7 linked regions of the Homo sapiens genome follow. The protein of the gene in region 3 purifies or fractionates together with the protein of the main gene of each other region. This does not show direct contact. Each region holds a gene or a part of one and is shown on either strand. Other genes may lie near its edges.

Region 1 (3,500 bases), on a different chromosome or scaffold from region 3:
TACATGCAGAAACTTCTCTGAGTTGGCCTACAAGCACCCTGAAATGCTCCAACTGGTTCTCCAAACTCTCTGCTTCTCTACCTAATGGAAACTGGGACTACAGAACTGTAGTATGCACCTTGGCGAAGGCAGCAGCAGTCATCTGAACACGACCCTCATCAGAGGCATAGATCTTGAGATCGTGGCGGAAAGTGCTATGGAGACGAAGCAGCCCACAACCAGGGAAGCCAGCATAGTCACCTGGGGACAAAGGTGGGGGACCACAAATGGACTGCTATAAATACTCGTGGAAGAAAAAATATTCATTCCCCCACTGTCTCTGTCCCTTCATTTTCCCCAACTTACTCTCTAATCATTTTATCCTGGCCCTGCTATGCGTTCACTCCCCAAAACACTCACCCTGTCCTCCAGGGTACATGCAGCGAAAAGCTCGCCCCAGCTCCTCAGCCTGAACACGGCCAGCAGGAGTCAGTTCTCCACCCCACTTCAGTACCAGCAACAGAGATGGGGCCAGAGTTTCCCTCTGTGGATCTGAAGGAATAAGAGGCAGTGAATGGTCTAGATCTAAGAAAAATAGTGGGAACATCTAAACCTTAGGTCTTCTGAGGAGACCAGAGATGTAATTTGGGGTAAAGGTCATCTATAGGCTCAAGAAAAAGAGATCTTGTGGGGAAAGAAGATGGACAAAAAACATAAAAAGAACACAAGATCTGAGAGGTAGTGGTAAGGGGGACTACATCTTACCTTGCCCCTCATTAGAAGCTTTTACTCCATGAGGGTAGTAAGTCAATTGTACCTTCCGGTTTATACCTGAGAAGTGACCATACCTGCAGGATAAAGTCACAGTTTATGTTCTGTTCCAGCACCCCAATTCTCACTGTTATTGGCTCCCTTTTGCTATCCCCTTTCTCACATCTCCAGTACAGACTTCAGCTGCTCTAGTTTTCCAGTCTTCTCCTCGATCTCACCACCTGGTTCTTTCTCCAGTTCAGCCAACAACAGCCTTGTGATATCCAGCACCTCCTAGAGGAAATAATAAGGTATCCATGCAGAAGGCCAAGTCCTAGACAGTTACCTTTCCATCCTAGTCTTTTATCAAGACTCCCAATGCCATATCCTCTATCTCTCTCATGGCACTGTTCCTCCTGGTCAGATTCACTACCTTACCTGGAGCTGCTCAGGTCGCTTGAGTTTTAATTTCCCTGTCTTGTAGCCACCATGTTTTTCAAACAGAGCAAAAAACCTGAAGAAGTAACGAGAAGCTTCAGTGTGGCATGAGACAGTCAAAGCCTCCAGGACTTGCCCCCCATGCAGTCTTCCTCACAAAAACCTATTTATGTAAATTAGGACACTCTTCTGACCTTGGGTGTTTCACTTCCATCTTCATCTTCTGCTTGGGAGTACGATCCCCATGACGAATAATTGCAATGACACAACGAAGTTCCATCCTAAGATCATAAATGTTATCAGAGCCTCTCCCACACCCCCATCCCACCTGCTGTCATCACATTACTTGACATGTCAAAAAAACAGAGGGGCTGAGCAGGGCTCAGGCCTGTGATCTCAGCACTTTGGGAGGCTGAGGTGGGAGGATCACTCAGGCCCAGGAGAAACATAGGGTGAGCATGAGCAACATAGGGTGAGTCTGTCTCTATAAAAAAAGTTAAAAGAAAAAAAATTATCCAGGCATGGTGCCACACGCCTGTGGTCCCAGCTATTTGGGAGGCTGAGGTGGGAGCATCACTTGAGCCCAGGAGATAGAGGCTGCAGTGAACCATGAGTGCACCACTGCACTCCAGCCTGGGAGACAGAGCCAGATCCTGTCGCAAAAAAAAAAAAAAAAAAAAAAAAGAAAGAAAAAGAAAAGGGAACTGAGATTAGGAATATAAATGGAGGCTGGGCATGGTGGCTCATGCCTGTAATCCCAGCTCGTTGGAAGGCCGAGGCGGGTGGATCACTTGACGTCAGGAGTTCAAGATCAGCCTGGTCACATGATGAAACCCCATCTCTACTAAAAACACAAAAATTAGCCAGATGTGCTCACCTGAACCCAGGAGGTGGAGGTTGCTGTGGGCCGAGATCATGCCACTGCACTCCAGCCTGGGCAACAGAGCTAGACTCTGTCTCAAAAACAAACACAACAAAACAAAAAAAACGGCGGGGGAATATAAGTGGAGTTAAGAAGACTGTGTATAAGAGGCCTAGGCTCCGTTAGTCAGATAGTGTGGGGTCAGGAAGTAACCATTAGCCTGGCTTAAGGAATCCCATGGGTCTTAAGTAGGTTACTCCAGATTTTTTGCTTTTGCTTACATAGTGCCAGATGTGGTGGGAACAATGGGAATGTCCTCAGCCTCCGTGGGGATGGACCATGGAATCTGGAACTGTGGGGCAAGCTCCCGCATTATGGTGTTCCTAGAAAGAGAAACAAAGAAGCCCTGTAAAAATGAATAAACCAGAACTACTCAGAGGAATGAAGCTCACAAAAACAAGCAGGCTGCAGGCAGAAGAATACCTTAATATAAAGTCTAAAAACATACAAACAAATACCCATATTTATGTAGTACAAATATAAATAAATACAAGGAATGACAAACACCAAATTATGGATTGTGGTTCCCTCTGGGGATGGGGAGGGGATGTTACTAGGGAGGAGTACATAGGGGCTTCGATTATATACACACACACACACACACACACACACACACACACACACACGTATGTGTACATACACACACGTATGTGTACAGTTTGTGTATATACACACATGTATGCGCATATAGATACACACATATGTGTATATAGATGCACATATGTGTATATAGATGCACATATGTATGTGTATATATACATATATACGTACATATATACACATATATACATATATGTGTACGTGTGTGTGTGTGTGTGTGTGTGTGTGTGTGTGTATATATATATATATATATATATTTTTTTTTTTTTTTTTTTTTTTTTTGAGATAGAGTTTCACTCTTGTTGCCCAGGCTGGAGTACAATGGCATGATCTCAGCTCACTGCAACCTCCACCTCCTGGGATCAAGTGATTCTACTGCCTCAGCCTCCCAAGCAGCTGAGATTATAGGGAACCACCACCACGGCTGACTAATTTTTTTTTTTTTTGGGTTTTTTTTTTTGAGATGGAGTCTCACTCTTGTCACCCAGGCTGGAGTACAGCGGCATGATCTCGGCTCACTGCAATCTCTTCCTCCCGGGTTCAAGTGATTCTCCTGTCTCAGCCTCCCAAGTAGCTGGGATTACAGGCGTCCACCAATATGCCTGGCTCATTTTTTTTTTGTATTTTTAGTAGAGATGGGGTTTCACCATGTTGGCCAGGCTGGTCTCGAAGTCCTGACCTCAGGTGATCCACGCACCCTGGCCTCCCAAAGTGCTGGGATTACAGGCGGAAGCCACTGAGCCTGGCCAATTTTTTGTATTTGTAGTAGAAACGAGGTTTCACCATGTTGGTCAGGCTGGTCTCAAACTCC
Region 2 (3,500 bases), on a different chromosome or scaffold from region 3:
TAGTGGCTAAAGATAAACATTAGATAAAACATAGGTCTTCATTGAGCAGACCTGAAATAGCAGAGCAATGAAGTACATTACAAATCAGCATCCCACTACATTTTAAAAAACAAACCAACAAGGGTGTCATGCCACCAGTCAAAAGGTACTTTGCTTAAACTGGCATTCTTTAACATGCATGTTGTAGTGGTAAGTACTTCATTTCATACAGCCACAGTAATTAATACTTTGCTAAGGGCTACCCAGCTGCTAAAAACTGCTGTTATCTCATACTGAGAATGCTAGTTCTATACCTTTGCTCTCAGGCTGTGAGGAAGGGGTGCTAGTCCAAAAGGCCATGGGATTAGATTTAAAAAGGCTAAAATTAAATCCTAGAAAATAAAGAATATTTCATTTTTTAACATTTTAGGAAACAAAATGAATATGCTTTTAAAACATAAAAAGCCAGAATCCCTCAATTTATACCACCAATCTGACTGTCTTACATATTCATTTATCCCTGTAGTTTCATTCTTTGCTCATTTAATACATGAGCAAGACTGACATACAACACATAAAATGAGAACATCTCAATATCATGTTTTTTTTTGTTTTTTGTTTTTTGTTTTTTTTGGAGACAAAGTCTCACTCAGTCACTCAGTCAGGCTGGAGTGCAGTGGCATGATTTCAGCTCACTGCTACCTCCATCTCCTGTGCTCAAGCGATCCTCCTGCCTCAACCTCCTGAGTAGCTGCTAATTATAGGCACGCACCACCATGCCCGGCTCATTTTTGTATTTTCAGTAGAAACAGGGTTTCACCATGTTGGCCAGGCTGGTCTCGAACTCCTGAGCTCAAGTGATCTGCCCACCTCAACCTCCCAAAGTGCTGGCATTCTAGGAGTGAGCCACCGTGCCCAGCCTCAATATCATGTTTTCTGAGTGACAAAAGAAACAGAACAAATGAAAATGAACACTTTAAAAAAAGACTCACGTTAATGCGCATGATTCAAGCATGAGTCCGTACACTGTACCAAGTTCTTTTGCTCTGCCCTAGCATGATAGAAGTATCTTCCAGTTACTGAAATGTCTTTAACTAAGTTCTCTTGCTCTTTGAAACCTCACCGTGAACTTATTAAGGGAGAAAAAAAATTGCTCAAATATTTTGGGGGTGTTCACAAAGCATCGTTTATATCCCAACATTAGTATCCCACAAAGAGTCTGCATCAAGCTAAACATTAAAAGAAAGAAAAATTGTGCTTAACTTTAACAACAAAGTACCTACCCTTTTCTGGTGTTTTAAATGTGTAGTTGATTGAAGATTCTTCCGTTGGAAAGGAAGCAGAGAGATTTTTGACTTTGCTATCTGAAGACTGTTCGATATCAGAGTTCTTTGACAGTTCACATTTTTTAGGTTCCACTTTGCTTTCAGATCCACTCTGGGCTACTGAACTAGTTTCACTATTGTTACTTTTCAAAGGTGCATTAAAACTAAATCCAAACAAAGACCCAGTGGCAGAACTGTTGCCAAATACAAATGGTTTTGATTTTTCACTACTAAAAATTCTTTTAACAGACTCTGAAACAAATACAAACTTTGGAGGAGAAACCACTGCTTTTGTTGTTGTTTCAGATGTGCTAGACACTTCAACTTCTGAAGCTGCATCTGCTACATCATCACCCTGAATAACATCTGTCCTCTCTCTTGTGGTTTCTTCTAATATAGCTACAGCAATTTTGCCACATGGTGACTCTCTGGGAGTGCTTGACCGAGAAACATGAGGTGTTATCAAAGAATCTTTTTCCTGGGCTGTTTTTGCTTCATCAAAAATTTTCTTAAACGAGTCTGCAACATCCTGTAGTTTAAAACGAACAGCTAAATGCTCTACTTTTCTTTCTCCATCTGCAAAATCACATGCAGTCCACACCCATACTCTTTCTGTCCCTTTCATATTTTGCAAACTCATGTCTGGAGTTATTCTGTGATTGGCACAAAGTTTTAATACTTGGTCCCTTCTCATCACTATACGAACTTGCTTATTATCATAATTCTGTAAAATCTTTATATCACCAATGCCCCTTTCTTTCCATTGACCAACATCTTTATCATATCTGTAGATTTCTGCCCTGTGACTAAAAACAACTTGTTCATTTTCCTCACCACTGGATACTTCAACTAGATCAGGTAAAGGAACAACAGGTTCAAAGTACTGTCCATCTCTCTCTTCTTCTTGAGTAACAACAGATTCTTCATCAGTGCCAACTGAAGTCCCACTCTGATTCAACTTGGCAGGAGACTTAGATAGACTCAAAGCAGATTTAAAACTGAAGTTAGATCCTGTTGTTGACTCATCAAAGCGGAAAAGATTTTTTCTCACAGGGCTACTTGCCAATGGAGAAGCATGTACTGAGCTACTACTGACACTATCATCCAAAGCATCTTCCCTTAAGTCATAGTTATCCCATTCTAATGTGGGCCCAGTGTTTTCAGCATTGGGTTTTATTGTTGTGTCTGAGGCACCGGCCGCACCTGTACCTGAACCCTTATTTTCTTCCTCAGTGACTTTTGTTTGATCATTTGTCAAAAATGTTTTGAAATCTTTCAGTCCACTCTTCATTTCTTCAGCTCTCTGTATTAACTTGGCAGCTCTGCCAGTATCTACAAGTTTATGGGGAGTTTGAAGTGGTATGTCTAACAGAAGCCGCTGGCATTCCTCAAATTTCTGCTTGAATTCTTCAGCCAGCTCTGGTGTTTTAAATTTTGCTGCCAACCGCTCTAGTTTGGCATCACCGTCAGAGAAATCACTGGCTGACCACATCCATGCTCTATCTGATCCAGAGAGGGGCTTCAGGTTCATTGTAGTCGTTATCCAATGATTAGCACACACTTTTAGTACTTGTTCTCTTCGCATCAGCATTCTTAGTTTGCCATTGACCTCGTTTTTGAGAATTTTTAAGTTCCCCAAGCCCCTTTCTTTCCACTGCCTTACCTCAGCATCAAATCTAAATAGTTTTACCCCCTGTGAATACAGAACTTTTTCACCTTCTTCTCCTGTTACAAGTTCTACTTTTTCAGGCATTTGAACTACTGGTTCAAAATGGATGTCATCGCTGTCCTCAGTCTTATAGGCATCATCATCTTTCTCAAAGTCACCGGAAGTGTTTGCTTTATTGGCCATTTTACCGTATCGTGATGAGAATAATTTTTCTCCAGCACCTGAAAATCCCTTGAAATTGAGGTCTTTTTTGCCAAACTGAAATCCTTCTCCTGAAGTTGATTTTGCAACATCTGCAAATGTAAAAGTGCTACTTGTTTGGCCAAAAATCACACCACGGCCCTTCTTCCGGCCACTAATATCCTGAGCCTGGAAGCCAGTATCATTTTCAAGAGGCTTTTCCCTTTTCTTTTCTTGATTTCCTGGTTCCGAAATGCCAAATTTAAATCCATCAGCAGACACAGGGATGGAAAATCCTTCTTTGGTTGACTTAAATTCTGTATTAGAAGAACCCTGAAACATAAATG
Region 3 (2,629 bases):
TTCACTGAGATGTTCTAGAGACGGGAATTAAAACTTGTTTTTTTCTTCCTTAGAGTGCAAAAGCAGTGCCTTACAAACTTAAGCAGGCTTCAGATTATCTGAGATGTTTAAAAGGCAGATTCTGGGACCCATCCCTGATTCAGGAATAGCAGGTACAACATTTTCAGAAACATTGCCTTTAAGGAAGCGGGTATGTCACACACAATTTTAATCTCACAGAAACATAAAATGTGCTAACCTGAATATTTAAAACATATGTTTTATTATTTACATGTTTGCCCCAAGTTATCACCTTACAGTGCTGTTCCATAAGCCAATCTGGAAAAAGTGAGACTTGATTTTGATTGTTTCCTAACAAACAACTGATCTTTGTTTTGTGTGACTCTTGGCTAATTCTATGTTTTCCTTTCTCTATTTTTAAGCTGACCATGGAGATATATTGCCATCAAAGTTTCTTTGAAATTTTGTGTGGGGTGTACAAAGAACAACAGGAGGCCAGCACTTATTAACAAGTGTAACTCTTTATTAAGATGGAATTGTTCTTATTAAAGAAATAGATGAAAATGGTTAAGTACAATTAAATGGCTCCAAAAGTCTTACAATGAAAACAACAGTCCTGCCAGTTGTTCTTTCCAGAGGCAAATACTTTTCATTCTCTTAGTTTTTCCTTCCGTTAGTTACCTTCATGGGTTTTTCCAAATTATTGTTTTTTTTTAGTTTTTCAAGTGAATGCATATATTAATACATAAAATTTTAAAAAGGCTTTTCAGTTTATAATGCATCCTAACAGTCCCCTGCCCCATCCCTCCTAATTCTCCAGAGCAATGACTTTTAACTCTTTTAGCAATGTCTTCTGTTTTTTTCCTCACATAACTTAGTCATTTCATTATTATATATTATATAGTGATTTCTGGATATGACAGATGAGGATTTAGCTCTTACACCATCACAATCTTCACTTTTCCTCCCATATTGTCCCAGAGTAGTTACCATATTTAGGGGCTAAGCAGTCACATCATTATGACTGTGTACATACTGCTCCTTGTTGAGAAAAACAGTGTATTATGCTCTTCCTATCCTGTACTTCTTTCTGCCCTAGAATGATTGCCTAACCAACCCTTTCCCCTTGTTTTTTTTTTTTTTTTTTTTACTTTTGCTTTATCTTCAATGAACTTCTTTCCAAATGCCCCAAATCTGGCAATAAGTTATTATTTTTAAGAGAAGGGATCTCACTAAGGTGGCCAGGCTGGTCTGGAACTCTTGGGCTCAAGTCGTCCTGCTGCTGAGCCTCCTGAGTAGCTGGGACTACAGGCATGGGCCATTCCACCCAGCTAACCGATTAATATTTTTACTGTTCCTTTTTAAAGCTAGCTCCATAGCTGGAATATTGCCTGTGTTGGATCCTATTTGCTGGATTCATGTCATTCTCTGGTTTGTGTACTCCTTCATTTTGCTGGAGTATTTTCTCCAACAGCTTCCCTAAAAAGGGCACATGGAGGTAACCCCTGAGTCTTTGCTTGTCTAAAAATGTATTATTTTACCTTCACCCTTGATTATTTGGGTGAATATAGATTTATCAGTTGAAAATAACTTTCTAGAATTATGAAGGCATGGTTCCATTGTTTTCAGATTCCTTTTCGAGACAAGGTCTCTTCTGTCACCCCGGCTGGAGTGCAGTGGCACAATCACGACTCACTGCAGCCTTGAACTCGTGGGCTCAATTAATTCTTCCATCTCAGCTTCCTGACTAGATGGGAATACAGGTGTGCGCCACAATGCCCAGCTAATTTTTGTGTTTTTTGTAGAGATGGGGCTTTGCCATGTTGCCCAAGCTGGTCTCAAGTGATCTGCCTGCCTTAGCCTCCCAAAGCGCTGGGATTACAGGTGTGAGCCACTGTGCCTGGCTGGTTTTTCTTTTATTTTCTCTCTACTTCATTCATTTCTCAAAGGCATCTGAAACTCCCTGGGCCCAAAACCAAAGTCAAACTCCATCAGAATATCCTGCTACTTATAACTTTAAAATATATCTTAAATCACAATTTCTTACTACATGCAACCCTTTGGTTCAAGCAACCATCATCCCTCACTTGAACTTATAATTGGTTTTCCTGCTTCTGTATTTTTTTAAATTATAAAATACTTCAAATAAACCATGTGTGGCCTTATACTTTTTACTACATAAAAAGAATGAAGATGTGCCGGGTGTGGTGGCTCAAGCCGGTAATCCCAGCACTTTGGGAGGCTGAGGTGGGTGAATCGCTTGCGGTCACGAGTTCGAGACTAGCCTGACCAACATGGTGAAACCCCATCTCTACTAAAAATACAAAATACAAAAATTAGCCGGGCGTGGTGGCGCGCACCTGGTCCTAGCTACTTGGGAGCCTGAGGCAGGAGAATCGCTTGAATCTGGGAAGGCGGAGGTTGCAGTAAGCCGAGGTCACACCATTGCATGCTAGCCTGGGCAACAAGAGCGAAACGCTGTCTAAAAAAAAAAGAACTTACATACTTAAACATCGAATTGCTTTAAGTGTTTGGCATTCACTGTTCCCGTGCATGCCAGCAGCTTCTTACTGCAAACACCTGAGACTTGCTATAGAGCAGCTGGACTATGTTCCGCCCACACACAGGA
Region 4 (3,500 bases), on a different chromosome or scaffold from region 3:
CCCGCCCACAAGCCCTCTCCGACCTTCCCCACCCTTACTACCCTGCCCACAGGACCCTCCAGACCTCAATCCCGCCCGCACGGTCCTGGCTGTTCCGCCCACGGGCCCAGTCCACAGGGCTCGAACTCTCAGGTCCTACGAGCCCGCCCACTAGGCCCCGCCCACAGGAGCCGCTCCGCTCGTGGCCCGGCTCACTCGGCCCTCGCGAGCCCTCAGCCCCACCCGCGCTGCCACGCACCGCACCTGCTGTCCCGCTCCGGGATCTCCTTGATGGCGATGCGCACCCTCGTGTGGCGATCGCGGCCCGCGTACACCACCCCATACGTGCCCTTGCCCAGCACCAGCCGCTCGCCCGTCTCCGTGTACTCATAATCAAACTGCCGGGCGCGGGGTGAGATGGGAGTTCAGCAGGGCCCGCGGCCCCTCGCCCTCCGCGAGCTCCCAGTCCCGCGTCCTCACCTCCAACATCTCCCCCGCGCCCTCCGCCTCCTCCGCGGGCGCCGTGGAATCCGGGTTCGTCACCCAGGCCTGGATCAGGCCGCAGAACCTGAAGGTGGGGGAGGTCAGACCCGCGGGAGGGGCATCTTGGTCCCCACCTAAGCCGGAGCATCCAACGGACGTCGTCCCTTTCTTTCCCCCACTCCCCCCCGGGCATCCTGGCCCTCAGAGTACCCCGACCATGAAAGGCTGCGCACCACTGGCAGTGCCCTACGCTGGGGAAGCACAGCTGGACGTCCTGAGCCGGGGGGAGTGCATAGAGGAAGCAGCAGCGCTCGTCGCGCTTTGAGGCGCTGGGAAGGGATGAAGAACCCAGTAAGCGTCAGGCTGGGTGGCAGCGACCCTCACCTCCCGTCTTTCCAGTCACCCCAGGTCCCGCCTATCACCTGACTCCGCATATGGAGGCGACTGGGAAGGTCCAGCTGGAGGGAATGTCCTGCAAGAAGAAATGGGGTGTGATGGGGAGTGCTGGTGACAGGAGAGGGGTCTGAGGATGGGAGAAAGGCTCCACAGAAAAGGTCCTAGCAAAGGTGAGTGAGGGGCCTCAGCAGCGACTTCACCTGGGTCTCAGGCTCCAGCAGGCTCAGGGTCACTGTGCTTACTGGGTCAGTACCCCGAACCTCGAGCTTTGCAGGCAGCAGCACCTTGTTCATCTCCAGGACCAGCACCTGCAGGCAGTTGGGGAGTGGGGTCAGTCAGAAGGGGCTTACCCCTTTCCCGGGTCCACCACCCCTACAGGCCTCACCAAGCACTGGTCGCCCTGGGCACAGGCTGTCTTGAATGGTTGGCAGGACTGTAGCAAGAAGTGGAGCCAGAAGTGGGCACGGCGTGGTGGCCCTCCAGGGGGCTCTGGCGTGGGCCTGAAGTGCTGGTAGAGCAGGAAGGTCTCCATCACGGACACCAGGTACCTGCATGCAAAGCCACATCCTCAGTTCAGCCCAGGCACCAACCAGCACTGCCAGGGAGAGGAAACTGGCCTGGATATAGCTAGAACGTTGGCATGGGGTGCCACGGGCACTGGTCTAAAAGCAGCCAGGTCATTGGCTCAGGGTTCAGTCTAGCATGCCAATGGACATAGGTGCAGGAGCTGACAGCCCAGGTCAGGCCAAGAATGCAGAGGGGGCCACCTACCATATGGGGGCATTGAGCTTATACAGCTGCTCTGCAGCCAGCACCACCTGGGTGGGGTCATTGGCGAGGATCTGGGCTCCCAGGTAGAAACCCACATCCCAGTAATACTGCATCTTCTCCACGCAGCCTTTGCGGGCCAGCAGGCAGCCCAGCTTCATGCCTGGGGGAGAGAGGCATGGGCTCCAGTGAGTGTGGGTGCAGGGGTGAGTGAGGCCCACCATTTCTGTGGGCCCGAGTGTGGACATGAACATAGATATGAGTATGGCATTGAGTATGGCAAGATCTCGGGTGGGAACAGGAGCTCAGGCACAGGTATATGTGGAATTCAGGATGTAATGGACACGCAGATGTGAGTTTGGGAACATTTGTGGGTTTGAGGGCTCCTGAGGGCCCAGAACAGGTATGAGGACCCAGGTGTGGGTATGGGCAGGACAGTCCAAAATGGATGAGCTCATCCTAGCTCTTGCCCAGTGTGCTCTCTCCCTGCCCTCTTCCCAGGCCCCTCGGAACCCCTGTGGGTGACGAGACAAGAGCCAGGATCTGTGCTCACCTATTAGCCGGAGCTCTTTGGAATCCTCAAAGTGCTGCCCGGCAGCAATGAGGAGCACAGCTGCATTGATGCCTGAGTGAAGGCTGGGCTCTACGTCAAAAGCCTTGCGATACCTGGGGTGGGGGTAGGGGGCACAGGGCTGGACTGATGCCCACAGCACCACCCCTCATCTCACAGCTTAGCCCACCGGCCACTCACTGTGCTCTTTACCAGTGATAGGCCTGCTCCCGGTGCCCAGCATCCTGGAAACCCGAGCTGAAGAACATGTCCTTGTAGATACGGCCACACATGCAGTACAGATCGGGCGCCACAGAGCCCTCAAGCTGTACCAGCGGCAGCAGCACAGACAGGGCCTTCGCCCGGTCCCCAGGCCTGTTCCTCCTAGGGAAAAGATGGGCTCAGGCCCTCCCTGATGGCCCTGGCCTACTCTGTCCAGGGACCTCTAGACACTGAACCAGCAGGGACCCTTCCAGGGGCCTGACAATAATGACCTCAAAATGATAATGACCCTGGCCAGCACTGACCTCTCTAGTGACCTCAGATGGAAGTGATTCCTAGATGCGATGACTCTTAGGAGCAGTGATCTTGGACAGCGGTGACCATACCACAGGCAGCACCACCTCCCCCACCCCGACCCAGGCAGCAGTAACTCAGAACAACAGGGACCTATTGACATCAGTGACCCCGGTCAGCAAATTCCCCGAACAGCAGTGATCCCAGACAGCAATGGCTTTGCACGCAGAGACCTAGGTTTCGGAAACCTTTATGTGGCTATGACCTAACCCTTGCTCTGCCACTCACCGGTTGAGGGCAAAAGTGTAGTGGAAGCAGACATTATGCTGCTCGGCCACATCACAGGTGGGCAAGGCCTGCAGCGTCTCCACCAGCTCAATGATGGCCGAGTAGTCCTGCATCAGGGAACGGCAAGCACTGGCATCATGGGCCTCCAGGCCCCAAGGAACCTTGAGCCAGGGTCCTGTCCCACTCCTGACATCCCACCCAGCCACCATCTTCTGCACGCCTCCCTCAGGCCCAGCGGACACACCTCACAGGGAGAACCTACTGTATGCCCCATGCTGGGCGTTCCCAACCCCACAACTGCCCCAGGAGGCAGCGACATGCTCATCCTCTCTAACAAATAAGGAGGCCAACACTCAGAGACATTGGATAATTTGCCCAAAGCCACCAGTGAGCAAGTGGCCCAGCCAGGAACTGAACTTGGGTTTGTCTGACCTCAAATGCCAGCTGCCCTACTGCCTCTCTGAACACCACGCACCTGCACATCGCGGTAGGAGAGCAGCAAGTTCATGATGATGTCGGG
Region 5 (3,500 bases), on a different chromosome or scaffold from region 3:
GGCGTGATCCCAGCTCAATGCAACCTCCACCCTCCTGGGTTCAAGCGAGTTCATCAGGCTCTGTTATGTTCTCCAGTCTGTTTGTTACACAAGTTAAAACTCTACTAAAGAAAAAAAATAAGGTCTCCTACATTTCAGAAAAACAATTTACTAACTAAGAATGTTAACATTTCATCAGCCAATAAATATATAAGTTAGTTCTAACCATTCATTAGACCCATGGGACAAATTTGAGCCATGACTTGGGAGAGAACATGCCTACACTTACTTTAATGACTTTTGTTGCATGGATAAAATTAATGGCATACAAGTTGTGTTCCTCCATTCCAGTCCCAATGGTTAGGATATTAGGGTCAAAAATAATGTCATTTGGATTAAAGCCCAGTTTTTTCACAAGCAGATGGTAGGCCCGGGTGCACACTCTGATTTTTGTGTCTGTTTCTGTTGCCTAGGGAAAAGAGCAAAAGATGTAGTTTGAAATAGAAAAATTATCTATTAAAATATTAATATTAAATACCTGTTATTTTATTTTAATAAAATATTAATATTAAAATATTAAGTGTTATACATTAGAGCACATTTCACTCACTGAAAACACTCAAGTGTCAATGCTTGGATTTCACAGAAATCTAAATGCCAAGCAGCTTCCGATCACTTATCAAATTATCTCAGAGGAGAGACTGGTTTAAAGATCTCTTTGTGTTTTCACAAACACAGCAGCTATACTCTTTCTGCAAAAAATCAAACCTTAAACATATACACACATATGGTATATTATGAAAAAGCTTCTAAAAATACATGCATATGATAAAAAATCAAATACTACTAAAGAAGAGATTAACATGTAAGTGCCCCTTCCTCTCTTGACCTGACAGCAGTGTCACAACCTATCACCCAGGAAACACTGCCATTGCTTTCTCAGATCTTCTTGCAAAAACATTCTAAGCATATTCAAGGATATGCATTTATTCCTCACCTTCACCCATTTTAACACTGGCCTAACATGTGTCTTAAGTCATAAATACAAATTAGTCTTTACCTTCAAAATAATGTCCCTAAAAGGCAAAACACTAACTCCGGCAAGGCTCATCCCCCAGCTGCTTCCCAAAAGCCTCAGAATCTCAGCCTCCATCTCCAATCTCATCTCCTACCATTTGCCCTCTCCTCTACTCCGCACCTCCTACATTGCTCCTTTGGTGTTTTTGAAACCCGTCAAGCTTGTTCCTCCCTCAGCAACTTTCATTTATTGCTGCCACTACCAGAACATACCATGACATGGCTTTGTGCTTCACAGAACTAAGGCTTCTGCCCAAGTGCCCCCTTTTCAGAGCCTACCTTAAATCACCCTCTCTAAACCAGCCACTTCCACCCTTCCCCACCTCCTCCATTCTTCTTCGGAGTATTTCTTTCCAGAAATTGTATTATTTTGGCAACATCTTTAGTATTTTTCGTTGTTTTATTACTTGTTAATTGGTAAACTCCTCTCCCCTAGATAGAATGCCAGTCTTGCTTTATCCCCAGTGCCCTGAGCAGTGCCTGTCAAAGTAGGTGCTCAACATTATGTATGAATGCTGCTTTTACTCAAAGTATTTCTGAACTTTGTCATGGAAACTGTCTTCAGATCAAATTTACAACCTCAACACAGGGTATTCACCAAATTACATCCTGAATTATTTCTGGTTGTATGAAAAATCAAATCTACTCTTAAAAAATGATTACTTGCTATCACTCCAGAGATAAGAAAAAATAAGTCACAATTCTGAAGGTCAATTCTCAATGAACGCGAAAAATGTTCTTGAAAAATGGCCAACCCTACTGCAATCTATATTGCAGACTTCTGTGGAGATGAGGGGGTAGGGACACGGACATAGGTCAAGTGCATCTAGTGAGGCCCTAGACAACAGAAATGAGGAGTAGGGGAATTATGAAAAGAACTCTCTCTTAGATCTAGCCTTTTGATCACTTACTACTTTGGTATTCTTTTTCAACTGTTTTCTTTGGTCTCTTTAATCGCTCTCTGCAGCTGGTGGGGTGAGACTTCACCTCTACTTGGGAGGGAAGTGCCTCCAGGACTTAGCAGACAAAATGGCCCAGGGAAAGGGAGACAGGAAGTGGTCTCTGTGGCCTCACTGCACCCAGGCTTTAGGGAAGGTGGCGAGCTTTCGTCTTCCTTAATGGAATTTTCTCAATGCTTACTTCCTCTGCCTTCAGTTAGAGTGAAAAGGTTAAGGTTGAGACTGAGATGTATGTCAGAAAAAACTGGTCAGAAACAGCCCATTTGCAGCTGCCTTTAGGCTTGAACTTTTAAAGTCTACCCTTCACCAGACAGCCCAATAGAGTTCTAGGCTCTAGGTTCATGGCTCATCTAAGCTCACTAAGAGAGAAGGCACAGGGGCGACCAATGCTACTAGTATTACTGAGTAACCTAGTCTGGTTGGTAGATGAAGAAGTCAAGGTCCTGGTCATTCCTCATCTGAGCCATGAATATTATCTGGCCAAGCAGGGCAGGTTGAAGTGAACAGTATGTTACCCACAGGAGAGTAGGGTGTAGGGCCCAGCTGTATACCAAAGACAGCCCTGCTTGTGGGACAAGCAGGTGCATCCTCACAGGACAGGAATTCATTTCTAGAACCAAAACAGAGTCATCAACTCTAACCTCCATAAGGATGAAGCCCTTGTCAAATTGTTCTCATGGCGTCTAGCACAGTATCTGTGCCACATTAACAGATACTCAACCTCTGTCACTTGATTAAACAATGACTCTCAGAGTGAACACGGCATTGGTGTACAGGCCTTTGTCAGGAGCAGGTCATATCTCATATCACGTAAGGTTCACCAAGCTTCTGTCTTACTCCTCACCAGGGCTGTGGGACAGACACACTAATAAAGCCTCAATCGTGCTGGTGGATTTCAGAGATCCAGAATAGAAGTTCAGTAAAACAACGGAATGGCAGCTTTACTCCATCAGGAAGGGCTTTCAACTCTGGTTGCACATTACAATACCCTGGAGGGATTTCTGTTTGCTTGTTTTTTATAATAGTAACACCTCACCCTGAACCAGTTAAATCAGAATCTGGAGATGGGGTCTCAGCAAGTGTTTTGTAAAAGCCCCTTAGTGATGCTAATATAAAGCCAGGTGAGAACCACCAACAGGTGAGATGTGGCACCTTCTTCAGTTGGAGTAGAAGAAAAACTCAGTGAGATTCTAAGCAGCAAGAAGGAAGGAATAAATGCCATTTATAGCTTTATCAAACAGGTTTACTCTTAAGCCATAGAGAAGCTAGACTGTGACCAGTGAGTAGAAGGCTTTACTTAAGAAGCTCATGGCTCAGATTCTGCTAAAATATCACACACTCAGGCAGTAATGCAATAAAACAATTTTTGATTTGGTCATCAAGGCAGACACTGTGAGGAAGAGAAGGACAATGTGTAGAAGACATCTAGATTCTTTAATGTAGTCTGACAAGGAGCAGAGATCGAACAGGGCTAACTTCAGAGGT
Region 6 (3,500 bases), on a different chromosome or scaffold from region 3:
GCACCTAACACTGAAGCACTCTGATATGTAAATTTTAGAGCTAAAGAGAGGCTCCAATAAATTAATAGCTAGAGACTTCAACACCTCACTTTAAGCATCGAACAGATCATCCAGACAGAAAATCAACAAAGAAACATTGGACTTTATCTGCATTACAGACCAAATGGACCTATTAGATAGTTACAGAACATTTCATACAATGGCTGCAGAATACACATTTTCCCCAGCACATATATCACTCCCAAGGATAGATCATATGTTATGCCACCAAATTAGTCTTAAAAAATTCAAAAGAATTGAAATTATATCAAGTATCTTCTCCAACCATGACGGATTAAAACTAGAAATCAGTAACAATAGGAATTTTGGAAACTGTACAAACACATGGAAATTAAACAATATGTTCCTGAATCACCAGTGGGTCAATGAAGAAATTAAGAAGGAAACATAAAAGTGTATTGTATCAAATGATAATAGAAACACTACATACCAAAACCTACACGATACAGTGAAAGCAGTGCTAAGAGGAATGGTTATAGCTATAAGTGCCTACATACAAAAAAGTAGAAAAACTTCAAATAAACAACTTAATGATGCATGTTAAAGAACTAGAAAAGTGGCTGGGCACAGTGGCTCACACCTGTAATCCCAGCACTTTGGGATGAAGCAGGCAGGTCACTTGAGGTCAAGAGTTTGAGACCAGCCTGGCCAACATGGTGAAACCTCATCTCTACTAAAATACAGAAATTAGCCAGGTATGCTGGCACACACCTGTAATCCCAGCTACTCAGGAGGCTGAGGCAGGAGAATCACTTGAACCCAGGAGGCAGAGGTTACAGTGAGCCAAGACTGTGTCACTGCACTACAGGCTGGGAAACAGAGCAAGACTCCATCTGAAAAAAACAAAACAAAAAAAAGAACTAGAAAAGCAAGAGCAAACCAAAACCAAAATTACTATAAGAAAAGAAATAATAAAGATCAGAGCAGAAAGAAGTAAAATTGAAATGAAGAAAACAACACCAAAGTCAAGGAAACAAACAGTTTGTTTTTTGAAAAGATAAATAAAATTGACAAACCTTTTTGTTTTTTGAAAAGATAAATAAAATTGACAAACCTTTAGCCAGACTTAAAAAAAAAAAAAGACAACTCAAATAAATATAATCAGAGATGAAAAGGAGACATTACAACTGATACCACAGAAATCCAAATGATCATTAGTGGCTACTATGAGTAACTATATATCAATAAATTGGAAAAATCTAGAATAAATGGGTAAGTTCCTAGACATATACAACCTACCAAGATTGAACCATGAAGAAATCCAAAAACTAAATAGACCAGTAACAAATAAAGAGATCAAAGCCATAAAAATGTCTCCCAACAAAGAAAATCCTGGAACCTGATGGCTTCACTGCTGAATTTTACTAAACATTTAAAGAAGAACTAATGCCAATCCTACTCAAGCTATTCTGAAAAATAGAGGAGGAGGGAATACTTTCAAACTCATTTTATGGGGCCGGTATTAGCCTGATACCAAAACCTGACAAAGGCACATCAAAAAAAGGAAACTACAGGCTAATATTCCTGATGAATGTAGAAGTAAAACTCTTCAACAAAATATTAGCAAACCAAATTCAACAATACATTAAAAAGATTATTCATCCTGACCAAGTGGGATTTATCCCAGGAATGCAAGTATGGTTCAACATATGCAAATCAATCAATGTGATACATCATATCAACAGAATGAAGGACAAAAATCATATGATCATTTCAGTTCATGCTGAAAAAGCATTTGATAAAACTCAACATCACTTCATGATAAAAACCCTAAAAAAAACTGGGTATAGAAGGAACATACCCCAATACAATAAAAGTTGCATATGACAGACCCACATACTGAATGGGGAAACATTGAAAGCCTTTCCACTAATATCTGGAATATGACAAGGATGCCCACTTTCACCACTGTTACTCAGCATAGTCCTGGAAGTCCTTGCTAAAGCAATCAGACAAGAGAGAGAAATAAAAGGCATCCAAATTGGAAAGGAAGAAGTCAAATTAGCCTTGTTTGTAGATGGTATGATCTTATATTTGGAAAAACCAAAACACTATTAAAAAACTACTAGAACTGATAAATTCAGTAAAGTTTCAGGATACAAAATCAACATACAAAAATCGGTAGCATTTCTATATTCCAATAGCAAACAACTGGAAAAAGAAATCAAGAAAGTAATCCCATTTGCAATAGCTACAAATAAAATACCTAGGAATTAACCCAAAAAAATGAAAGATCTCTACAACGAAAACTATAAAACACTGATGAAAGAAATTGAACAGGACACACATGAAAAGGGAAAGATATTCTATGTTCATAGTTTGAAAGAAGCAATATTGTTAAAACGTCCATACTACCCAAAGCAATCTACAGATTCAATGCATTCCCTATCAAAATACCAATGTCATTCCTCACATAAATAGAAAAAACATCATAAAATGTATATGGAGCCACAAAAGACCCAGAATAGCCAAAGCTATCCTGAGCAAAGCAAACAAAACTAGAAGAATCACTTTACCTAACTTCAAATTATACTACAGAGCTATAGTAACCAAAACAGCATGGCACTGGCATAAAAACAGTTATATAGACCAATAGGACAGAATAGAGAACACAGAAACAAATCAATGCATTCACAGTGAACTCTTATTTGACAAAGCTGCCACAAACATACATTGAGGAAAGGACAGGCTCCTCAATAAATGGTGCTGGGAAAATTGGTTATCCATATGCAAATGAATGAAATAAAATCTAAATGGATTAAAGACTTAAGTCTAAGACCTCAAACTATGAAACTACTCAAAGAAAACAATGGAGAAACTCTCCAGGACGTTGGTCTGGGCAATGATTTCTTGAGTGATACCCTACAGGCACAGGCAGCCACAGCAAACATGGACAAATGGGATTACATCAAGTTTAAAACTTCTGAACAGCAAAGGAAACAATAAACAAAGTGAGGAGACAACCCACAGAATGAGAGAAAATATTTGCAAACTATCCATCTGACAAGTTATTAATAATGAGAATATATAAGGAGATCAAACAACTCTATAAGAAAAATCTAATAATCTGATTTTAAAATGAACAAATGACCTAAACAGATATTTCTCAAAAATGGCAAATAGGTTTATGAAAAGGTGCTCAAAATCAATAATCAGAGAAATGTAAATCAAAATTACAATCAGATATCATCTCACCCCAGTTAAAATGGCTTTTAACCAAAAAAACTAAGCAATAACAAATGGCTGGTGAGAATGTGGAGAAAAGTAGACTCTTGTACACTGTTGGTGGGAATATAAATTAACACAATCACTATGGAGAACAGTATGGAGGTTCTTCAAAAAACTAAAAATAAAACTACCATATGATTCAGCAATCCCACTGCTAGGTACACCCCAAAGGAAATGTTATCAGTATATTGAAGAACTATCTGCACTCCCAT
Region 7 (4,212 bases), on a different chromosome or scaffold from region 3:
AAAATAAATTTCTATTGTTTATAAGCCACCCAGTTTGAGGTATTTTTGTTATAACAGCCCGAATGGACTAAGGCAAATAGTAACAGAATATAATCCGCGAGCTCCCCTTTCTGGTCTCACTTCGGCTGGATGTGCTTAGACTCTCCTATTTCCCACTCAAGCCAGTGCTTCGGGCAGGTGGGCTAGTGACTTTTTCCGAATAGACTAAGGCAAATAGTAACAGAATATAATCCACTAAACACACACACACACACACACACACACACACACACACACACAGACTCCATGTAGATGTCAATAAATGATTAAGAGTTTAGTGAGGAACAAGATATTTACATAGTTTCAAAGTACATGGCAAAAACAATTAAGTATTAACTTTACAGTGGAGAAGCCTCGCAGATATTACTTATATCAAGTAATCAAAGTAAAAATAACCAACAATGAAACAAAGTGAAATTGTGCACCACCTGACAGGATGCAGTGAGCATCACTTCTGTGATATCCTTCCCACGTGCATATTCGTATGTATCTAATCATGAAGGAACAGACAATCCCAAATTGAGGGGGCAGCCTACAAAGTGACTGACCTGTAATTGTTAAATATGTTAAGGTCATGAAAGTCAGGAGAAGATAAAGGAAATGTTCCAGATTGAGGGAGACAAAAGAGACATAACATGAATGCAACACATATTGCTAAACTGGATCCTTTTGCCAGTAAAGAGATTACTAGCACAATCAACAAAACTTGAACCAGTCTGAGAACTAGATGGAGTACTGTATCACTATCCATTTCCTGTTTTGGTTATTACACTGTGATCATGTAGGAGAACATTCTTGTTTGCAGAAAATGCACATTAAAGTATTCTGGGATGACAGGGCATCAGGTCAACAGCTTCCTCTCAAATTGTTGGGGGGCGGGTAGAATTTTTTGTACCATTCTTGCAACTTTTTTGCAAGTCTGTTATTGTTTCAACATTGTTGGCCGGGCGTGGTGGCTCAAGCCTGTAATCCCAGCACTTTGGGAGGCCGAGGCCGGTGGATCACGAGATCAGGAGTTCAAGACCAGCCTGGCCAGGATGGTGAAATCCCGTCTCTACTACAAATACAAAAATTAGCGGGCGTGTTGGCGGGCGCCTGTAAATCCCAGCTACTCCGGAGGCTGAGGCAGAGAATTGCTTCAACCCGGGAGACAGAGGTTGCAGTGAGCCAAGATCGCACCACTGCACTCCAGCGTGGGCAACAGAGCAAAACTCCGTCTCAAAAAAAAAAAAAAAAAAAATTGTTTAAAAGTGGGGAGGGGGGGAGGCGGAACAATGTCACTAAAAACTAAAGGTTAAAAAACTGATTTCCCACACTTAATCTTGATAGAAAAGAAACATCAGACTATGCCAAATTACTAGGAAATAAAATTTTGGATCCAGAAGTTTAAACATTTAAACTTTCTCTTTAACAATTGACCTCAATCAGGTCATGACTGGTGAAAGAGAAAAGAACATGAAAGGTTCCCACTAAAGGAGAGGAAGTTCTTAGGAGAGGAATAATGAAAGAGAGAGTGGACCAAGAGTGGGTAGAACAATGGTATTCTGAGCTACCAATGGCTGTAACCATCAGGAAAACACAATCTCAGCATCTCTGAAAAATGAAGGGGCTGTAGAGCTGATATCTCAAATTCCTTGCAAATGTGGGACTAGAATTGCCCTAAAATAGAAGTGGTTTCCCAGCTCAATTTGTTATTACATTATGCTTAGCTACATAGTAATACAAGAGAATACAAATACAGAAATAAACGTGCATGAACCCTGAATTCTCTTAAGTTGTGGAAGTCCGTCAATTAAAGTGTAAAATACAATGCATTTGCCCAATTGTTCCTTACGACGAAAATTCTGTGACAAATAAAAAGAACAATGAAAACACATTAAAGTGAAACAAGATCACCTTCAGCGGTCAGCTGGCTGTCCTTAGTTAAAAGACAAGTCATGTCACTGTGAAGTGACCGTCACATTTGTCCTGAAAGAATAGGGAGCATTTCCTAGAAAGGGGTAAAAGTGCAAAGAATCCTGTCCCCTTCCCTGGTACCACGCGTTCCTTGGGGAGGTCACTAGGCCCCCAACAGCACAGGGGTGAGTTAGCACTGGACTCTCAGCACTTCCTTTCGGAGAGGACAACCCCCTGCGTCACTGGTTACTCACTCAGGATGCAGGGCAGAAGTTTATCCCCGAGGAACTTAGCACAGTTGGCTCCCGCCCTCCCAGCCTTGCGGTCCTGGGCCCAATCTCAGGGCTCTCTCTGCCCCGGGTACCCTGCAGCCTCCAGCGGGAGGGTCGCGAGACCCCAACTCGCCTCCGGCCCGCCCAGCGGGTGCGCCCAGGGGCTGGGCAGACGCGGCGTCTTCCCTCCCCCTACCGTCGTGCCGGCCCCCCCACGCCCACCGCCAGGCTCAGCCCAGCCGAGAAGGCCGGACGCCGACCGCCCGCTCCTCCGAGACTCGGCCTGGCCCTCCCCGACGCCCGTCCCCGACGCCCGGCCCCGCGGAGCCCACTGGACAGCGGCCGGGGGGCGGGGAGGCCCGGGGGCGGTGCCGCCCCACACCCTTACCTGGCTTCTCGTGGTCATAGCCTACCACGATGAAGTAGTCAGCCAGCCGGGCCATGGCCGCCGCCGCCGCGCTCGGGAAGCGGGTCCCCGTCGCCGCCCTCGCCGCCGCCGCCCACCCGGCCCGGGAGGGCTCAGCATTTTCCCTGCAGCGGCAGTAGCGGCAGCGGCAGCGCTTCAGCCATGTTTGACAACCGAGGCGCGCTCTGCGCTTGCGCGGCGCCTAGTGCCCGCTCCTCCCCCGCCCCCACCCGCGCTGGCTCGGCTGCCCCAAGCCCGGGCGGCGAGCCCACCTCCACCCTCCGCGGGCCTCGCGGACTGCTGCGCTGGGGGAGTGGGCGGTCGGGCGTGTTCCCGCCACGCGCCGCCACCGCGGCCCCTGGAGGTGGTTCACTTTGAGGCCTGGATGCTGCTTCACGGCCCCCTCTGCCTCCCTATTTTTCCTAAAGCAGGGGGTCCTTCCTTCCGCCTTCTCTATTCTGTTTGGATTTGGAAGAAGGGATGTGGAGAGTTGAGGGGTCACTTGGAAAGCTGGCTGCTTCCTCTGCTCCCCACCACCACCAAAGATGAAATTCTCCCGCCCTCGGTTGGAAGCAAGGAATTTGCATCGACAGGGCTTTTGCTGCACGTTTCCTGTTTATGTTGTGTAGATGGGAATTTTAGAAACATGCCACCGAGCAGACGGGGGAGGGAGAGGCTTTTACGCAATCCTCCAAGGAGCCTCGGGTTTCAATGCCGGGTGGGCCGGGGGCGGTCGGCCTGGGCTTCCCCCGGAGCGCCCGGGAGAGCCAGATTCCACCGAGGAACGCGGCATCCCCGGGATCCTCCCGAACTGGGCTGGCCTCTCCCTGGGGAGCCCCGCACGCCTCGGCTTGCTTCCCTCGCAGCGGTCCCAGGGCTCTCGCAGCCCGAGCAGGTGGACTTCCAACTTCCCTGCTCAAACATGCACAAAAATGAATAGATGGTCCCGTCCTTCCGTCTCGGGATTATCAAAGTCGCTTGCTTTTTTGTTGAACCTCCTATTGACCATTTCGAATTTGGCTGGTGTGACATTCAGGTGAACTCACTTTGTCATTTGTTAATATCTCACGAAGTTTTAGTAGAATTTGTACAAGTGGTAGACCAAAGTTTTGGAAATCTCCGTGGTTTAGAAGTTGTCTTTGTGGTTGCTTATCACTGCTCACTATTAATTGAGGGTTTGATCCTTCATATTTACACATAAGACAAGGCCTCTTAGCAAAGCGTCTAGTATATAGTAGGTGCCTACAAAATATTTTAAATGAGTAAATGTGCGATTTTCCCCAACGACCAGCAGGAAGCCGCAATGGCTCCAACTCTGAACTGAGAGAGTTGACATCTCAGCTCCTGAAGATTTACTCTGCTGTAATTTACTATTTCCCCTTTCTCTGCCACACTTGTTTCATCTACAAATTGGGAGGGTTGGGCTGCACTAGAACTGAAACTGAAGGAATACTTTAACTCCAGGACCTCTATGTCAGTTGCTAATGGTAAAACTGAATCAGCTGAATTTGCAAACGTGGAGGGAAGATAGTTTGATCCTGAAAATAATTAAACCAAAAAAAAAAAAACCTCAGTCATACCCCGTGCAGCAATCCTCTC

Evidence for each region.
Region 1: the proteins of DHFR (region 3) and PPIP5K1 purify together in Homo sapiens (affinity purification with mass spectrometry; one large-scale study listed by BioGRID and IntAct). This does not show direct contact.
Region 2: the proteins of DHFR (region 3) and RGPD5 purify together in Homo sapiens (affinity purification with mass spectrometry, with the first as the bait; one large-scale study listed by BioGRID). This does not show direct contact.
Region 4: the proteins of DHFR (region 3) and MAP3K6 purify together in Homo sapiens (affinity purification with mass spectrometry; one large-scale study listed by BioGRID and IntAct). This does not show direct contact.
Region 5: the proteins of DHFR (region 3) and MTR purify together in Homo sapiens (affinity purification with mass spectrometry; one large-scale study listed by BioGRID and IntAct). This does not show direct contact.
Region 6: the proteins of DHFR (region 3) and MYO3B purify together in Homo sapiens (affinity purification with mass spectrometry; one large-scale study listed by BioGRID and IntAct). This does not show direct contact.
Region 7: the proteins of DHFR (region 3) and SBF2 purify together in Homo sapiens (affinity purification with mass spectrometry; one large-scale study listed by BioGRID and IntAct). This does not show direct contact.

The regions. Positions count from the first base shown.
Region 1 is NC_000015.10:43,576,709-43,580,208, forward strand, and holds part of PPIP5K1 (inositol hexakisphosphate and diphosphoinositol-pentakisphosphate kinase 1), read right to left. Parts: intron 2,413-3,500; coding exon 2,311-2,412; intron 1,449-2,310; coding exon 1,362-1,448; intron 1,244-1,361; coding exon 1,168-1,243; intron 1,024-1,167; coding exon 914-1,023; intron 828-913; coding exon 745-827; intron 532-744; coding exon 400-531; intron 241-399; coding exon 119-240; intron 1-118. UniProt on the Homo sapiens protein: Bifunctional inositol kinase that acts in concert with the IP6K kinases IP6K1, IP6K2 and IP6K3 to synthesize the diphosphate group-containing inositol pyrophosphates diphosphoinositol pentakisphosphate, PP-InsP5, and bis-diphosphoinositol tetrakisphosphate, (PP)2-InsP4.
Region 2 is NC_000002.12:109,835,805-109,839,304, reverse strand, and holds part of RGPD5 (RANBP2-like and GRIP domain-containing protein 5/6), read right to left. Parts: intron 3,487-3,500; coding exon 1,263-3,486; intron 372-1,262; coding exon of another isoform or gene 268-371; exon of another isoform or gene 1-267.
Region 3 is NC_000005.10:80,625,726-80,628,354, forward strand, and holds the end of DHFR (dihydrofolate reductase), read right to left. Parts: 3' UTR 501-2,629; downstream 1-500.
Region 4 is NC_000001.11:27,360,462-27,363,961, forward strand, and holds part of MAP3K6 (mitogen-activated protein kinase kinase kinase 6), read right to left. Parts: coding exon 3,456-3,500; intron 3,088-3,455; coding exon 2,981-3,087; intron 2,561-2,980; coding exon 2,390-2,560; intron 2,293-2,389; coding exon 2,180-2,292; intron 1,790-2,179; coding exon 1,630-1,789; intron 1,407-1,629; coding exon 1,244-1,406; intron 1,167-1,243; coding exon 1,059-1,166; intron 935-1,058; coding exon 885-934; intron 792-884; coding exon 696-791; intron 548-695; coding exon 460-547; intron 378-459; coding exon 244-377; intron 1-243. UniProt on the Homo sapiens protein: Component of a protein kinase signal transduction cascade. Activates the JNK, but not ERK or p38 kinase pathways.
Region 5 is NC_000001.11:236,847,292-236,850,791, reverse strand, and holds part of MTR (methionine synthase), read right to left. Parts: intron 449-3,500; coding exon 269-448; intron 1-268. UniProt on the Homo sapiens protein: Catalyzes the transfer of a methyl group from methylcob(III)alamin (MeCbl) to homocysteine, yielding enzyme-bound cob(I)alamin and methionine in the cytosol. MeCbl is an active form of cobalamin (vitamin B12) used as a cofactor for methionine biosynthesis.
Region 6 is NC_000002.12:170,184,647-170,188,146, reverse strand, and holds part of MYO3B (myosin-IIIb), read right to left. Parts: intron 1-3,500.
Region 7 is NC_000011.10:10,291,420-10,295,631, forward strand, and holds the start of SBF2 (myotubularin-related protein 13), read right to left. Parts: upstream 2,801-4,212; 5' UTR 2,651-2,800; coding exon 2,596-2,650; intron 1-2,595. UniProt on the Homo sapiens protein: Guanine nucleotide exchange factor (GEF) which activates RAB21 and possibly RAB28. Promotes the exchange of GDP to GTP, converting inactive GDP-bound Rab proteins into their active GTP-bound form.